4 linked regions of the Homo sapiens genome follow. The protein of the gene in region 4 purifies or fractionates together with the protein of the main gene of each other region. This does not show direct contact. Each region holds a gene or a part of one and is shown on either strand. Other genes may lie near its edges.

Evidence for each region. Proteins that work in one complex are often made in the same cells at the same time.
Region 1: the proteins of FCN1 (region 4) and PTPRG purify together in Homo sapiens (affinity purification with mass spectrometry; 3 studies listed by BioGRID and IntAct, with this or other methods). This does not show direct contact.
Region 2: the proteins of FCN1 (region 4) and PTPRA purify together in Homo sapiens (affinity purification with mass spectrometry; 3 studies listed by BioGRID and IntAct, with this or other methods). This does not show direct contact.
Region 3: the proteins of FCN1 (region 4) and KIAA0319L purify together in Homo sapiens (affinity purification with mass spectrometry; 3 studies listed by BioGRID and IntAct, with this or other methods). This does not show direct contact.

What each region holds. Positions count from the first base shown.
Region 1 is NC_000003.12:62,201,571-62,205,070, forward strand, and holds part of PTPRG (receptor-type tyrosine-protein phosphatase gamma isoform 1 precursor), read left to right. Parts: intron 1-1,602; coding exon 1,603-2,380; intron 2,381-3,500.
Region 2 is NC_000020.11:3,026,981-3,030,480, forward strand, and holds part of PTPRA (receptor-type tyrosine-protein phosphatase alpha isoform 1 precursor), read left to right. Parts: intron 1-140; coding exon 141-217; intron 218-726; coding exon 727-861; intron 862-3,500. UniProt on the Homo sapiens protein: Tyrosine protein phosphatase which is involved in integrin-mediated focal adhesion formation.
Region 3 is NC_000001.11:35,438,904-35,442,403, forward strand, and holds part of KIAA0319L (dyslexia-associated protein KIAA0319-like protein), read right to left. Parts: intron 3,434-3,500; coding exon 3,343-3,433; intron 2,236-3,342; coding exon 2,144-2,235; intron 1-2,143.
Region 4 is NC_000009.12:134,906,980-134,912,758, reverse strand, and holds part of FCN1 (ficolin-1 precursor), read left to right. Parts: intron 1-143; coding exon 144-273; intron 274-1,491; coding exon 1,492-1,626; intron 1,627-2,713; coding exon 2,714-2,961; 3' UTR 2,962-5,779.

The DNA.
Region 1 (3,500 bases), on a different chromosome or scaffold from region 4:
AAATTGCTTTGTCGTGGCTGGTTGTTAATTTGCTTGCAGTTAAAACTGTCACCACGAAGTGGCAGTATAATGTTGTTAAACTGCTCAGTGTAAAGCGGTTATAGTAGAGAAAAAATTACATTATTCACTTTTTATAATTCAGTACCTTATGAACACAAGCTGTGCAACAGTGTTAGGTGGTTATATTATATAATTTTGTGAAGGTAAAAATTCTTCATATTTTTAGTTATGATTTGTGGGATCAGACGATGCAGGACCACAAAGGAGTTAAATCTGTTCCAACCCTTTCATTTGACATATACTCAAATTCAGAGGTTGTCATTTGCGTAAAGTTATATGGATCTGAAAATTTCTGGAACCAGAATTAATATCTTAGTTTCCCCATTCCTGGTTGGTATAATGAATAATTAAAATACTAATCACAGCAGTGGTGATAATAATAATAGCCTAAAATTCACTATGCTCTTCCTGGGTTTCAGGCACAGATTATTTTATTTACTTCTCCAGGCAGCCCACAAGGTCAGTGTTACTGTTGTTCCCGTTTTACAGATGAGGAAACCGAGGCTCAGTGAGTTAAAGTAATGTGTCCAGCATCACCCAGCAGGCAAGCTAAAATTAGACTAATAGCTCAGAGCAGCACTTCTTGTTTTCCTAAGATACCTTATGTGAGTAAAACCCCCAGACTTGAGCCCCAGTTTAGTATGGTGGTAAGAACAAGCCGAGTCTTAGACCCAGGCAGCCCTGCATTTGTGCCTTCCAGGTCATGTACCTTGTGTAAGCTCTTTAACATCTCTGTGTCTGAGTTTCCTCACCTGCAAAATGGGGTGATGATCATGCCTGCCTCCAGAGTAGCATGGAAAGCCCTGGCACACGGTTGGCATTTGTTAATTGGAATTCTTGTTATTGTTGTTGATGTTGTTGTCATCTGTATGGGCTCAGATTTTCCCACGGATCAACTTAGAAACTGCAAGGTACAGTGACTCTGCAGTGCCCAACATGGAGATGCAGAGATGTAAACCAGTGCCCAGAGCATGCAGTGCAGAGCATGGCTCCTGCCTCTGACCCTGTCATTGCAGACCTGGGCAGGCTGCTTTCCCTCCTTGTCCACCCACTTCCTCACTGGGAGACAGTGGGGTTGGACTGGATCACCCAGTATCTTTCCAGACCTAGAGCTGAGTATCTACTCAAGTGTCAGTGATATACATAAAATCAAAGGTCTTCTGCCTCTCATCACCCCAAGAACAGATGACCATCTGATTTTTCCAGTTCATGACTTCTTTGTTGTGTAAGTCAGCTTTAACACTACTTAGTTTTTTTGGCACCTAGCCTCATCTTGGGTAATATCAGTGAAAAGCTGAGTTTGATCGACTAGTTATGCATTTTAACATGTTCACAATTATAAAACCATTAAAAATAAAAGTTGATCACCCATGGACCACCTAATGTCAACTTTATGCCATACATTGGAAAACTCCATAGCATAGATGAGTAAAATCCTCAGAGGGTGACAACCAGGGCCTCATTCCCAATCTCAATTACTGATGCTTCTCTGCTTTTTCTTCTTCTGCCTCTTTTCCACCCTTGCCGGGTGACCCTTTCCAGCCCACAGCGTCTCCTGCCTCTTCAGCCGACATGGCCCCCATCAGCTCGGGGTCTTCTACCTGGACGTCCTCTGGCATCCCATTCTCATTTGTTTCCATGGCAACTGGGATGGGCCCCTCCTCCAGTGGCAGCCAGGCCACAGTGGCCTCGGTGGTCACCAGCACGCTGCTCGCCGGCCTGGGGTTCGGCGGTGGTGGCATCTCCTCTTTCCCCAGCACTGTGTGGCCCACGCGCCTCCCGACGGCCGCCTCAGCCAGCAAGCAGGCGGCTAGGCCAGTCCTAGCCACCACAGAGGCCTTGGCTTCTCCAGGGCCCGATGGTGATTCGTCACCAACCAAGGACGGCGAGGGCACCGAGGAAGGAGAGAAGGATGAGAAAAGCGAGAGTGAGGATGGGGAGCGGGAGCACGAGGAGGATGGAGAGAAGGACTCCGAAAAGAAGGAGAAGAGTGGGGTGACCCACGCTGCCGAGGAGCGGAATCAGACGGAGCCCAGCCCCACACCCTCGTCTCCTAACAGGACTGCCGAGGGAGGGCATCAGACTATACCTGGGCATGAGCAGGATCACACTGCCGTCCCCACAGACCAGACGGGCGGAAGGAGGGATGCCGGCCCAGGCCTGGACCCCGACATGGTCACCTCCACCCAAGTGCCCCCCACCGCCACAGAGGAGCAGTATGCAGGGAGTGATCCCAAGAGGCCCGAAATGCCATCTAAAAAGCCTATGTCCCGCGGGGACCGATTTTCTGAAGACAGCAGATTTATCACTGTTAATCCAGGTAAGTGGTGCAGGTCTTCTTCGAGGGTTCCTGCTCCTGTGAATAGTCGTACCCTTTTTCAAAAAATTGGGAGCAGAAGGTGAAGCTTCAGAAGGTACTTAATATTCTTAGAATCATATATGTCTGTCATAGAAAAGGTGCACACATGTGAAATGTGTATGTGTGTGTCCCTGTTTTACTCCAAAAGCCTACTCTCTTACGCTGGAGTAAGTCTTTCTTTGATATTTGTTTTCTTGCCTCGGAATAACTCCAGGGACTTCAACCAGGCAATGATATACATGAATAAAAAAAGCCATCGATCTTAAGAAGTTTATTTATTAAGATTTCATTCCATATTCATTATATAATGTATCTACAAATGGCTAGTTTGGTGCCAGGGACTGGGCAGGGTGCTGTCCCAGGGGATCCTAGTCCCTGCCTAAAAAGTTTAAAGGGGAAGGCAGACAGATGACAAGACAGTAGCTAGCTGGAGCGCATGCCCAGAAGTTAGGTAGCAGGAACGTTAGAAAGCCAGCAAGCTAGATGGTGGTTAGTCGGCAAGCTAGATGGTTAACTGGCAAGCTGGAAAACTAACTAACTGAAGTTTTCGATTGTGAAATGGTAATAGAGGAAATAAACAGGATGCTGTCCAAGAGAATTATGGAGAGGATAGGGACCTACCTTAATTAAGAAAGGCCACTCTGGAGAAGTGGCTTGTTCATGGAAACCTACAGAATGAAAGGCTTCAGCCTGGGGAGAGCTGGTATTGGCCCATGGTCCTTGCCCAAGAAATACGGCCCTCTCTCCCAGAGCTCCCATTGCTGTGGGAATGAGCCAGTGTATAGACAGTGAGGCCAGGGCATGAGATCCTCATCTCCTGGTGGCAATTTTGTTGCTCTATCATATGCTCAAATCTTAATGAACCATCCTGATAGTTTCTGCAAGGGAGCCATAAGCATGAGGAGTTGTTATTGTTGTGAGGGCTTTTCTTAATAAGAAATTCTTCATTTTGCCAGACTACAAGATGTTTAGCAACAATTTTTTTTGCGTCTAAGCTGTTGTGGAGTTATAAGAGTGCAAAAAAAAAGCAACTGGTAAATATTTATTTGCTTTTGCACTTGTAAACATTAAAATTCATCTA
Region 2 (3,500 bases), on a different chromosome or scaffold from region 4:
TTTCTCCCTAATGAGCTAGGAACAGACATGTCCTTGCCCAGCTGGGATTCTGTCTGCCCAGGGCCTGAGGTGGGAGCAATGCAAGGAGAGGGAGAGGACAAATGATATTGGCTAGCCATAAGCCGCTATTCTTCTTACAGATGAATTCAACAGAGTGATCATTCCAGTTAAGCGGGGCGAAGAGAATACAGACTATGTGAACGCATCCTTTATTGATGTAAGTGGTGGGTGTGACCCCTGAGCCCCCAACACCCCGTGGAGATTCAGCCAGCACTTGCAGTGCCTCCCTCCCATACCTGCTGGGGAGGATCATGTTTGAATCAGTCAACAAATAGTGAATTGATACTCACCCACCCACTCACCCTGTGCATTAGGTCTGTCCAGCTCCATAGAGCAGAAGGTGGGGGAAAACAGATGGCATGCAGTAGTATAATACCTGGAAGAAAAAGTTCACAGAGCAGACCACAGCCAAGAGGAACCTGGCTGCCCCCTGATCTTTCCCATTCCTGCCCTCTTCATCCTAGCTCTAATCCCTGTTCCACTTCCCTGTCTCTTACAGAAAGCAACCAGCTTGTCAGATAGGGTTTCGTCCTTGGCCACAGGGGAGCTCTGCATGGGCTGAGTTTGCCTCCGAGCAGTCCCCATTCCCTTCTAGTGGTCTGTCTTCTCCACTAGTCCCTCTGTGATTAAACCATCTCACCCTTGCAATTAACCTGGCCTGTGCAGGGCTACCGGCAGAAGGACTCCTATATCGCCAGCCAGGGCCCTCTTCTCCACACAATTGAGGACTTCTGGCGAATGATCTGGGAGTGGAAATCCTGCTCTATCGTGATGCTAACAGAACTGGAGGAGAGAGGCCAGGTGAGTTCAAAAGGTCCTGGGTGGTGAGAGACAGAGACAGCATGAAAAGATGTGTGTGTAAATGGGGACGTTGGGAAGGCAAGAAGGTGTTTGGACCTTGTCTTTGACTTATACGGTCCAAAGAGTACGTTTGCATAGTATAAGTACATACTTAAAGGTATATAAATACATATGCATTTCCAGGATTGCCCAGCCCGTTGGTGTCTAAGCAGTCATTAGCTTCTCCCAAGACTAGAAAAGCAATGTGATCTGAGCCTCCATGTTATTCCCAGACAGCTCACACCCTTGCACTTTCTCCTGAATACAGTCCCCCTAGCCTAGCCTTTGCACAGTGCCCCAGGCGGGGGGGGCACCCTCTCCTTCCCAGTGCCCCAGGCAGGGCAGATAGGTCAAGGTTCTGAGGTGGACCCAATATGAGTGTCCCTAAGAAGGGATTGCCTCATTGCTGACTACATAAAATAAAGCAGTAGAATTTGAGAAATTATACAAACAAGAAACTTACAGTCTAATATTCAGTAATAAGGAAATCTTTTAAAGAAAAAAGCCCTCAGGTCTATTAAAAAGCAGAGCTGTCCGGAAACTCATACTAAAAAGGGACACTAGCAGTCCCCTAGGTCAACTTCCTCTCAGTATAGGAAACCTCCTAATATTGTTCCTGAGTCAGAATCATACAGCCTCTACTAAGCACATTCAATCTCAGGGATATCTCCCTCACCCCCCACATTATGGGGGGACCCAGTCTGTGTTCTGACAATGCTTATTCTTTTAAAAATTATTTCTGTTGAGGTTGCACATTGCAGCAAATGAGCGGTTCACTATGTCTGGGGTGTCACTTAGCAGGGATGAGAATCTAGAGAATGGGCCTGGAGAGAAGCTAGCAAGGCCTGGTGAGAAAATTCCTTCTAAGCCACAGTGAAGAGTTTGGTCTTCCTAAAGCAATTGAAGAGCCCTTGACAACATCCCATTTGTGTTTTTTAAAAAATCCCTCTGGCAGCAGTGAGAAGGACTCATTAGAAATGCGAAAGCTGTGGCAGTAATGCTGGTGGCCTGGACTCGGGTGGTGAGAGGGTGCTGTCCCAGAAAGGGTGAAGTGAGGAGGAATTAAGGATGGCACCCACTCATGACTCATTGAATTTATAGTCAAACATTTAAAATACAAAGTATGTTTTACATTAGTTGTCTCAAGTCACTAGTTGTTCCCCATCTGTACTTGTGTTAACTTTGGTACAAGGCTTTACACATATTTTCTCACCCTGATGTTTCATTACATCAGGATTTTTTTTTTTTTTTTGGTTTTGTTTGTTTGTTTGTTTGTTTGAGAGAGGGTCTCACTTTGTCACCCAGGCTGGAGTGCAGTGGCACGATCTTGGCTCACTGCAGCCTCAACCTCCCAGGTTCAAGTGATCCTCCCACATAGCCCTCCAAGTAGCTAGGACTAAAGGCACGTGCCACCATGCCCAGCTAGTTTTTGTATTTTTTTGTAGAGACAGGGTTTCACCATGTTGCCCAGGCTGGTCTTGAACTCCTGGGCTCAATTGATCCACCCACCTGGTTGACCCAAAGTGCTAGGATTACAGGTTTGAACCACCTTGCCCGGCATTTTTTTCAATTTTGATCAGTCATTTAACTCATTAGCTATTCTTCCTAGACTTGTATCATGTACCTAATCAACAGACATACTTTGTAGGTCTTCATCATCTTTTTTTTTTTTTTTTTTGAGACGGAGTCTCTGTCACCCAGGCTGGAGTGCAGTGGCACAATATGGGCTCATTGCAACCTCTGCCTCCCAGGTTCTGGCAATTCTCCTGCCACAGCCTCCCTAGTAACTGGGATTAAAGACACCCACCATCATGCCTGGCTAATTTTTGTAGGCACGGGGTTTCACCATGTTGGCCAGGCTTGTCTCAAACTCCTGACCTCAGGTTATCTGCCTGACTCAGCCTCCCAAAGTGCTGGGATTACAGGCGTGAGCCACTGCGCCCAGTGTCTTCATCATCATTAATAACAATACTGATGAGGTGGGAGGTTCGGTTAAGGTGCTTGGCTTTGCACTCAAGGAAGCACACACCTGAGTAACAAAAGCTGTTTAGGAAATGAGCCACTGTGTTCTCAGGAGCTAGGTGCCTGTTCCTGCCGTCTCTGATCAGTCGTGATGGAACCTGCAGATCAGACCAGGGCCCTACCTGTGGTTCCTTCTGCACCCCTGCCCTTCAGATCTGTGATGGGCAGGACCAAAGAGCAGGCCGAAGAGCTGGAACCACGAGCACAAGGACCATCTCGGCCCACTGCCCTGTGATAAAATGTGGCCCAGTGAACATCTCCGCCTCTGTCCAGTCAGATGCAGGCTCTTCCATCCTTGAAAAGGACCTAGTGAGAGTAAAGGGCAGGGGGCAGGAAGCATTTCATGTGTGTGGCGGTGGGGAGAAGAGTCGTGCGCACACAAATTCTGCTGCCTGTTGAGTGAGGCCTCTCCCTCTGCCTTCCACTGTAGCTTATGCTCTGTCTTCCTAGGCCAGTGAAGCAGACAGTAGTGCTTGCCCTCAAAAGCTTCTGAGTGGATTGGAACAGGATGTTAGTGATGTTCTTTACAAGGCCTCACTGGCCCCCAAGTTCACTTTCTGTTCCATTCATGTTGTCAA
Region 3 (3,500 bases), on a different chromosome or scaffold from region 4:
AGGAAGCTGAGGTGGAAGGATCACCTGAGCCCAGGAGGTCAAGACTGCAGTGGGCCTTGATCGCACCACTGCACTCCTGCCTGGGTGATAAGAGTGAGACTCTGTCTCAAATAATAATAAATGTAAACCAAATCCCACCATTCATCCCCTTAAAAAGCTATCAGTGGCTCCCCATTGTACTCAAGAGAAGTCCTCAGCAGGGACCCTGCTCATCCATTGAGCCTTGGGTCACTCACCCCTTACTCTGTGGGAAGGTGAACCTGTCCATCATGTCACCTTCTTCTACCTCCTCAAATGCTCTCTGCTCCTTCTAGCAGCTGGGTCTGCACCAGTTTTGTTCCTTTGCCTGGAATGCTATTTCCTGCAGCTTTATCTGGCTAGCTCCCACTTATCCAGGTCTCAGCTTAAGTGTTTTTCTTCATAAAGGCCTTTTATGAGCATATTTTATGTATTTGTGAGTTTGCTTAATGTCTGTCTGACATAAGCTACACAAGAGTGAAGTCTGTCCGTTTGATTCACCACAATATAAGCAGTGTCTGGCACAGGGCCTGGCACATAGTGGTCCCGCTCCATATCCACAGATGAATGAGACAGCCCCTGCCCTCAGGGATTTCACTGATGGGTGGGGAGACAGGCAAACATAACTAATCATGAGACAGCGAGAGAAATGCCGACCCAGGCATGTGAGAGAAAGGTGAGCACAACTTGAGGAGGTTAAGGGAGGGATAAGAAAGAGCTTTCTAGGGCTGGGTATGGTGGTGCATGCCTGTAGTCCCAGCTGCTTTGGGAGGCTGAAGCAGGAGGACCACTTGAGCTCAGGAGCTGGAGGTTGCAGTGAGCTATGACTATACCACTGCACTCCAGCCTGGGTGACAGAGCAAGACCTTGTCGCCACATTTTTAAAAAAGAAAGAGATTACTGGATGAACCAGAAGAACTTGTTTAGAAAAGAGGGAGATCAGCAAAGAGAAAGATTCCAGAAAAGCAAACTGATGTAAGCTCACAAAGGCCACATCTACCAGACCAAAAGTTCTAGCTTTTTGTGCTAGAAATAGTAAGTCATTGAAGAATGTCAGGGGGTGAAAAACATGATCAGAGTAACATGATAAAAACCTTGGCTGCAGTGTGAGGGGTGGGTTTTGCACATTTCACCTCCAGGCCCTCATTCTCAATATTCCTGGGTGAAATGCCCCGCCCGCCCTCACTGCTCTGGTTTCCTGGGCTCATTTCAAGCCCCACCACCTCCAGTCTCCACCTTGACAGTGTTGGTGGATCGAGCTGCTTGGTGCAGAGTCCAGACTGCTGTGAGCCTGTTCTCTTCTGCTACTGTGTGTCTTTTCTCCCTCACTAGACTGAGAGCACAGCCTGTGTCTGATGACTCCCTATACCCCCATAGCCTCTCCCTAACACAAAGCTTTAAGCATGAAAAGTGTTTAATAAATGCTTTATATAAAAATAGTTCTACTTGCAGAGTGTTTAGGAATCGCTTTATAGAGTCTAGCTCTCATAAACCAATGATACCTGTCCCATGGCATCCATGATGAGTGAAACCCTCGCCAGGTGACCCAGCCCAGCGGAGGAAGGAAGGCCTACTACCTGCCCTGATCTCCCAGTGCCATCACTCAAAGTCATCTTACTGTTTGTGCAAGGAAATGCCCTCCTATCTGCCCTAAGACACTGACAGAAGCTGAGGACTTGCCAAATGATAAAGATAGGAAGACAGGAGAACAAGGCTGGCTGAAAGGTGGTCAGCTGGCAGACACGGGCCTGGGTCTCATCTCTGCCCATAAAGCACAGACTGGTCAGCAGTAAGAGACAAGTCCAAGGTCCCTGACCCTGACTACCTGGGGCAGTTGGAAAAGCGGAACTCCAGGTGGGAAACATGAGGAGAATGCCCAGGCAAAGGAAAACAACAGGCCCAGCACCCCCGCCAAGCGGAAGTAGCACGCGAAGTGGGTCCTGGAGGCATTTTGTCCAGTGCAGCTCAGGGCAAATCTGACCCTCAGTCTTCATCAGGCAAAAGGGAACAAAATGCTTTGCAAGCACAGTGGGCTGTTAGTGACACACTCAGGAGGGGCTAGTGACAGCAGCCTTCCACAGAGAGAGTGCACAGACCTAGAAGCTCTGGCACCCAGGGCCCCTACCTGCTCGGGAGGTTGGCTTCAGCTCCAGGCTTTCCTGATCCGTGGCATCCAGGATCTTGTACTTGCTTTTCCTCTTGGGTTTTCCTTTTTGCCTAAAAAACACAACCCCCACCCCTGCTCAGGAAAGAGGTTCTCTGGGAGGATGAGGATGAGAGCCAGATGTGCATGCAGGGCCCTATTTTGGTGGGGCACCTACTGAGAGGGGTGTCCTCTCCTCACTTCTCAGCCAGGAAAGGTGGCAACTGTGATTTGTTCCTCAAATGTTCCTCAGCAATTCTGGAGAAGGGCAAGGGAGCTATGACCACCTTGGCACGGACTCACCATCCCACAGGGGCAATGAAGGACAGATTGGTTAAAAACGTAAAGAAAACAAAATCCTCTGCTTGAAGGGTGTGGGAGGAGACAGGCATTACACTAACAAAGTTGGTAATGGTGGTTGTCTTAGACTGGTGGGAATTTTTAAAAATTCCTTTAGTTCTAAGTTTTATAAGAGGTTATACTGAAAGTTGAATCTCAGCTCTGTCACTATCAACTGGTCCTCAGACAGTGATGTACCTTTCCTGAGCCTAAGTTTTTTTATCTGTAAAATGGGAAAAGGTTATGTGTCTTAAAAATGATATTACCTATAAAAATATTATGGCACACAGTATACACAGAAATAATATTATTAATAATGAAAACATAAAATAAATGTAACCATTCCATCTTAGAAGACTCAATAGGAAGACTCAAATGAAAAAACACAGGACGCCTGAGCCTGGCTAGCCTAAAGTGCATGTGTGGAAACATGCACACTCATGAATCCCAACTAGAAAGAAGGCAGAATTAAAAACTCGCGGGCTATGCTGGTGAGGCTACAGTGTGGTGCATTAAAGAAAACACACCTTACAGATGTGATCCGGGTCTGTACCCCTGGCCCTCACGCTCACTCCCCCACCTTGCCCTGCTCCCGCCCAGCCATGTTTCCCAGGTTCCAAATCACTGCAGTGGCTGCCACTCACTGAAGGAGTGTGCCTCTGCCCTCAGGAGAGTCTCAGGGTGAGCAAAGCTGCCCGTGCATGCCTTAGGTGGGTCAGAACTCTCTAATGCTGACTAAGGACCCAGCCCAGTCCTTCCACGTGGAAGGTGCCAAATACCTCTCTGAGGAACGAATGTATGACAAGAAGCCCGAATGAATTTCAAAGGAAAATCCATCTTACCTCTTACAACAACAGATCACAGTCCAAGACAGGATTCCCAAGGCAACAACAATGACAAAGGTAGCAATGATAACATATAACACGCTCCACTCTGCCAAGAAAATCAAAATGGTGAGGGCTGTGGAGGGAGAGGCTGGGAGGGAGGTCTGGGCTGCTCC
Region 4 (5,779 bases):
GTGAGGAGACCAGATGGGCGTGCGTGTGGCACCGGCCTGTGATGCTCTGCCAACTACAAATGCTGCTCCTCTGGAGGGCGGGTCCCCGGTGCTGTGGGACCTCGGCCTGCCCCGCCTAACTCTGTATCCTGGCTTCTTCACAGGTTTTCCAGCGGAGGATGGATGGCTCTGTGGACTTCTATCGGGACTGGGCCGCATACAAGCAGGGCTTCGGCAGTCAGCTGGGGGAGTTCTGGCTGGGGAATGACAACATCCACGCCCTGACTGCCCAGGGTAGGGCCACTGCCGTGGCTCAGGGGTTGGGGGGCCCTGAGGTGCTCCTGCCCCTTAGGCCTGGGCCATCTGCAACATAAGCACCTCTTGGCCCACAGGGGATTGGGCCCTGAGCACACTCAGGTGGCACTGGGACCTCTAAGGGCTGCGTCCCCTGCCGCAGGCTCTGGCAACATCGGGAAGGGAAACGGTTAGAGCCCTGGGCTGAAGGCCTCTTCAGGTCTTGGTCCTACTGGCATCTTAGATCCTGAGAGTGGGAAGCAGGAGAGAGACCACTGGGGCTTGGGGTAGCCTTCCCCCATCTCCAGCTGTTGATCTGCCTCTGAAGCTGGCATCTTAGTCCCATGGAGAGCCCACGCTCGCCTCCTCCAGCCCACGCCTCAGCAGGCCCCCCACAGCCGCACTCACCTGAGTGAGAGGGCCTCCCCCCAACCCTCTGGGGCAGGGGATGAGTTTCACAGCTGGTCCTGAGGCAGTCTGTATAATTGCTGGTCCATTATCCCTGCCCACTGCCCTGTGGCATGATTGAAGGAATCCACTCAGGTGCCTCAAATTCCTGCAAAAGAAACTACAATTAGAGCTTCGCCCACTGCTGTGTTAGTGGCTCACCAACCCTTAGAAGGAGAAGGTACACTTTCAAAATGAAAGAATGCTCCCTTCCACCCAGTGAACTCCAGTGGGGCATGTTCAGTTCTCTGAAATAACGGGAAAGGTGTTTAGAAACAGAAAGCCATCCCTGAGGGCCTGATAGCAACAAGGGATTTTCTGACATTTCCGGTTGATTTTTTTCCTGGATGCCACGTTCAGACATCCCTTAAGAATATATCCATCCCCAGCCGGGCACCGTGGCTCACACCTGTAATCCCAGCATTTTGGGAGGCTGAGGCTGGTGGATCATGAGGTGAAGAGATCGAGACCATCCTGACCAACATGGTGAAACCCCATCTCTACTAAAAATACAAAAAAAAAAAAAAGTAGCTGTGTGTGGTGGCACACACCTGTAATCCCAGCTACTGGGGAGGCTGAGGCAGGAGAATTGCTTGAACCCAGGAGGCGGAGGTTGCAGTGAGCTGAGATGGTGCCATTGCACTCCAGCCTGGGCAACAAGAGCGGAACTCTGTCTCAAAAAAAAAAAAAAAAAAATTACCCATCCCCAGCCCTCATGCCTGGTGACAGAAAGATCTTAAAGGCTGGGGCCTTAAAATCTTTTTCCAACAGGAAGCAGCGAGCTCCGTGTAGACCTGGTGGACTTTGAGGGCAACCACCAGTTTGCTAAGTACAAATCATTCAAGGTGGCTGACGAGGCAGAGAAGTACAAGCTGGTACTGGGAGCCTTTGTCGGGGGCAGTGCGGGTGAGTGTCTGCTTGGGGCTGGTGGCCTGAGTGGGGCTTGGAAAGCAGAGAGAACCTGGCTCTGTCTCCCCTGGTGACCTTGGGCCCTCCTCTCTCTGAATCCCATTTCTCCATCTATGAAGCAGACACTAGCATTTGTGTCTCTGTACAGCGTGGGGCTCACAGGACATAGCGGCTGGTATTCCTAAGGCTATGTCTGCCGCACAGTGAGCTGCCTGGGCAGGGCTGAGACGACCCACCAGCATCACTGCTGAAACCTGGAAGACGTCGTCCTTTTCTCATGGGTGCCTTGGAGCTGTTTCCCAAACTGTGCTCCATGGAACACCAGCCTTGTGGGACATTCTTTACCAAAAGGAGTCTCTGGCTACACGATCTGGGGAGGCATTTCCTACAGGGCGTCTGCTTAGGGAATTCCCAGTGCACATCGTTCGTGAAAGGCACTGAGAATTGCTGCAGCTGGAAGTCTGTGTAACTAACTGCTCCATGGAGCAAGGCAGTCCCAGGGGAGCCTTGGAAATGACAGCCTTGGAGTCTGTGCAGTCCTTTCACAGGCACGATCTCACGCATGACCTCCAAGGAAGGCAGCAGGGCAGGGAAGGTCACCCCCATTTTGCAGGTGGTAAAACCGAGGCTCAGGGGGTGACATTTCTCAGCTATAGGAGCCAGGGATGAGCTTCCGGCTCAGGGCTTGAGATAGAGGAGAAGCCCCCAGGTGAGGGCTGTCCTGAACCTACCAAGGGCCACCAGGGGACGTGGGGAGAGACCGGAAGGAGCGGCGCAGGCTGGAGGAGGGAGGTCATTCCAGGAGAGAGCAGGAGGCCTGACAGTTTGCGGGAGCCCTGGAGGAAACAGGTGGTTGCTGGAGCAGGGGCCTCAGGTTGTGGAGAGAGATTTCCAGACCAGGTTGCCAGAGGTTGCCTCCTGCTTCCCCTTCCTCCAAGGCCTGGGTGGGTCATTTGTGCACCTGTAGCTCGGCTCATGCGTCGCTAAAGTGAGGTTGGCTCTGCTCAGAGGCAGGATGTGGTGAGGGTCTCACAGTGGCAGGGCTTTTTCCAGCATCTGCAAACCCCACATTTTCTGTGAGCAGGTAATTCTCTAACGGGCCACAACAACAACTTCTTCTCCACCAAAGACCAAGACAATGATGTGAGTTCTTCGAATTGTGCTGAGAAGTTCCAAGGAGCCTGGTGGTACGCCGACTGTCATGCTTCAAACCTCAATGGTCTCTACCTCATGGGACCCCATGAGAGCTATGCCAATGGTATCAACTGGAGTGCGGCGAAGGGGTACAAATATAGCTACAAGGTGTCAGAGATGAAGGTGCGGCCCGCCTAGACGGGCCAGGACCCCTCCACATGCACCTGCTAGTGGGGAGGCCACACCCACAAGCGCTGCGTCGTGGAAGTCACCCCATTTCCCCAGCCAGACACACTCCCATGACGCCCACAGCTGCCCCTTTGCCCCCAGCTCAGTCAAGCCGCCACATGCCCACAACCTCACCAGAGGGAGAATTATGTTTCTAAATATGTTTACTTTGGGACAGAAAAGTTTTACCAGTTTCAATGTGTGTTTCTTGAACACCAGTGGTTTTGATCACTTTCCTGTGTCTGTTGCACGGCAGGTCTTTCCCTGGAATTTGGTAAGTCGGGAAGAGTCAGGACCCTTATTTAGCAGATGGCACTACCGATGTTCAGGGAGGTTGAGTGACTTTTGCGAGGATTTTCCACCTCCAGTAATTGACACAGGGCGATCCTCACCTCCACCCCCAAGCCTCCCCCATCCCCCCATGCCTCACTCACAACACTTCACACTTCTTGAAAAAGGTCACTTTGGGGTCCAGAAAACACTTACTAAAAAGGGGGAAAGTTTAGTAGGAACTTTTCTGCTTCCCACCACGGCAGAGTTCATGCTTTGGGCTGGCTGGCTGCTGGGAAGAGATAAACACTTAGCACTCACTAAGTGAGCGCCTGGTCAGCCACCTGCACAGAGAAGATTCCGAAGAGGCCTTCCTCCCACACACAGACCTCAGCTAGAGGGGACCGCGGACCTCAGTGGGAAAAGCTGCACAAGGCTTCTAGGAGATGATGGAGAAGGGGCTTCTCCAGCTCCCAGGCCAGGGGAGATTTCTCAACCACGACCTAAGAAGCATCAAAGGGAATGTGGCAAGTGTGACTCCATTCAAATCAAGAGCTCCCACTTACCGAAGGACACTAAGGGAACCAAAGGAAGGCCAGAGGGGCAGAATCAACGTGCGGCACACAAATCTTTAGTTTTCTACTATTGCCGCAACCAGTCACCACAAATGGAGTGGCTTGAAACAACAAGAACTCGCCACCTCCTGGCTCAGTAGATCTGGAGTCCCTGGGCCTTACTGGGCCAGCAGGCAGGACTCAGCAGTGGTGGCTCCTTCCAGGGTTCTAGGGGAGAACCTGCTTCCTTGCCTTTTCCAGCCCCAGGGGTCACTGGCATTCATTGGCCCGGACTCCTTCCCCCAACCCCAAAGCCAGCAGCACCACATCTCTCTGACCCTTCATCCGTTGTCCCCTCTCCCCCCAAGCCCCATGGGACAGGGTCTCCACTCCTGAGACTCATGGGATTAGACTAGGCCTACCTGGATGATCTGGGATCCTCTCCCATGTCCAGGTCTCTATCCCTAACCACATCAGCAAAGTCTCTTTTGCCATGGAAGGTATTTGCAGGCTCTGACTTTGTGTGTATTAGGGCAGGACATTTTTGGCGGGGCAGTGGTGGGGGCAGGGAATTATTCTGCCTACCATGCCTTATACAAAAATAAATAAATCACAGGCTTATACCTGAAAGAATTCCTGCAAATAATAAAAGAATTAGAGCAGCTCAGTTAAATAAAAAAAGGTATGAGATGTGAACAGACACTTCACAGAAGATGACATGCAGGGGAGCAAGGTATTTATCAAAAAGTGCTCCACTTTTCACTTACCAGAGAAATGCAAATCAGCACCCAAAGGAGTCACTGCGGCACCCTCATCTGAGCCTCAGAAGTTAGAAAGATGGATAGCACCAGTGTCAAAGGTGACTGTGGGAGGGAGATTTGCATACACTGCTAGTAACAATGCGAATTGATGGAACCAACCTGGAAAATGGCTTGGCATCAACTGTTGGAGAAGAAGACACACAGTCCTCTAACCTGCCAGTCCCACATCAGGGCCTGGATATGGCCGTCATGTGTACCAGGGAGCATGGCCAGGAATCTTTACAGCCAAATACTCACCATAGCACCAAACTGGAATCAGCCGACATACCCATCAGGAAGAGAATGGATGTTAAAAAATGCAAGGATAGCCATTGGGTAGAACGCCATACAGCCATGACAATTACACAGTGACACCTACACACAAGGAGCATGAGTCTCACAAACATGGCAGCAAAAGGAGCCTGTTCAAGAGGGTATGTGCTATGGATTCCATTGTAGATAAAGTTTTTCAAAAGCAAAAGTAGCCAATGGTATTTTGGATGCATATTTAGGTGGTAAATGTATACAGGAAAAATAAGAAAGTGATTGTATTTGAGGGTGGGACCACATGGTGACTGGGAAGGGACAGGGACAAGCCTCTGGGGTTCTGGCAATGCTCTGTTTCTTGACCCAGGTGGTGATTGTAAGGATGTTTGTTAACTAGTGATGAAAATAATTAAGCTGTACTTTTGCTTTATACACTTTTGAGTACATGTTATGTTCCACAATTTAAAAACTACTTATAAAGAAACTGCACATGCTTGGATCCAGGAACATGAGCTACAGGCACATCCTCCACTGATGCCCAGTGTTCTTGACTCAATACCTGTAAGGAGAGGTCCTTGTAGCCCATTGGGGGCTGACCAGACCCTACTACGCCCCTGCCACAATCTCTAGTCCATCACAAAATCCACTATTGGGATAGTACTTTCGTCCCTCAGTAGGTAAGCATTTTTACAACCTAGGAAGACTTAGCTTTAAGTCTAGAAATGATTAGTATAAATATAAAATATAAATATGATTAATATAAATATAAAATAGCCATAGAAATATGCCTTTTAGTTTGTTTTTTGAGACAGAGTTTTACTCTGCCACCCAGGCTGGAGTGCAGTGGCGTGATCTCAGCTCACTGCAATCTCCACCTCCCAGGTTCAAGAGATTCTC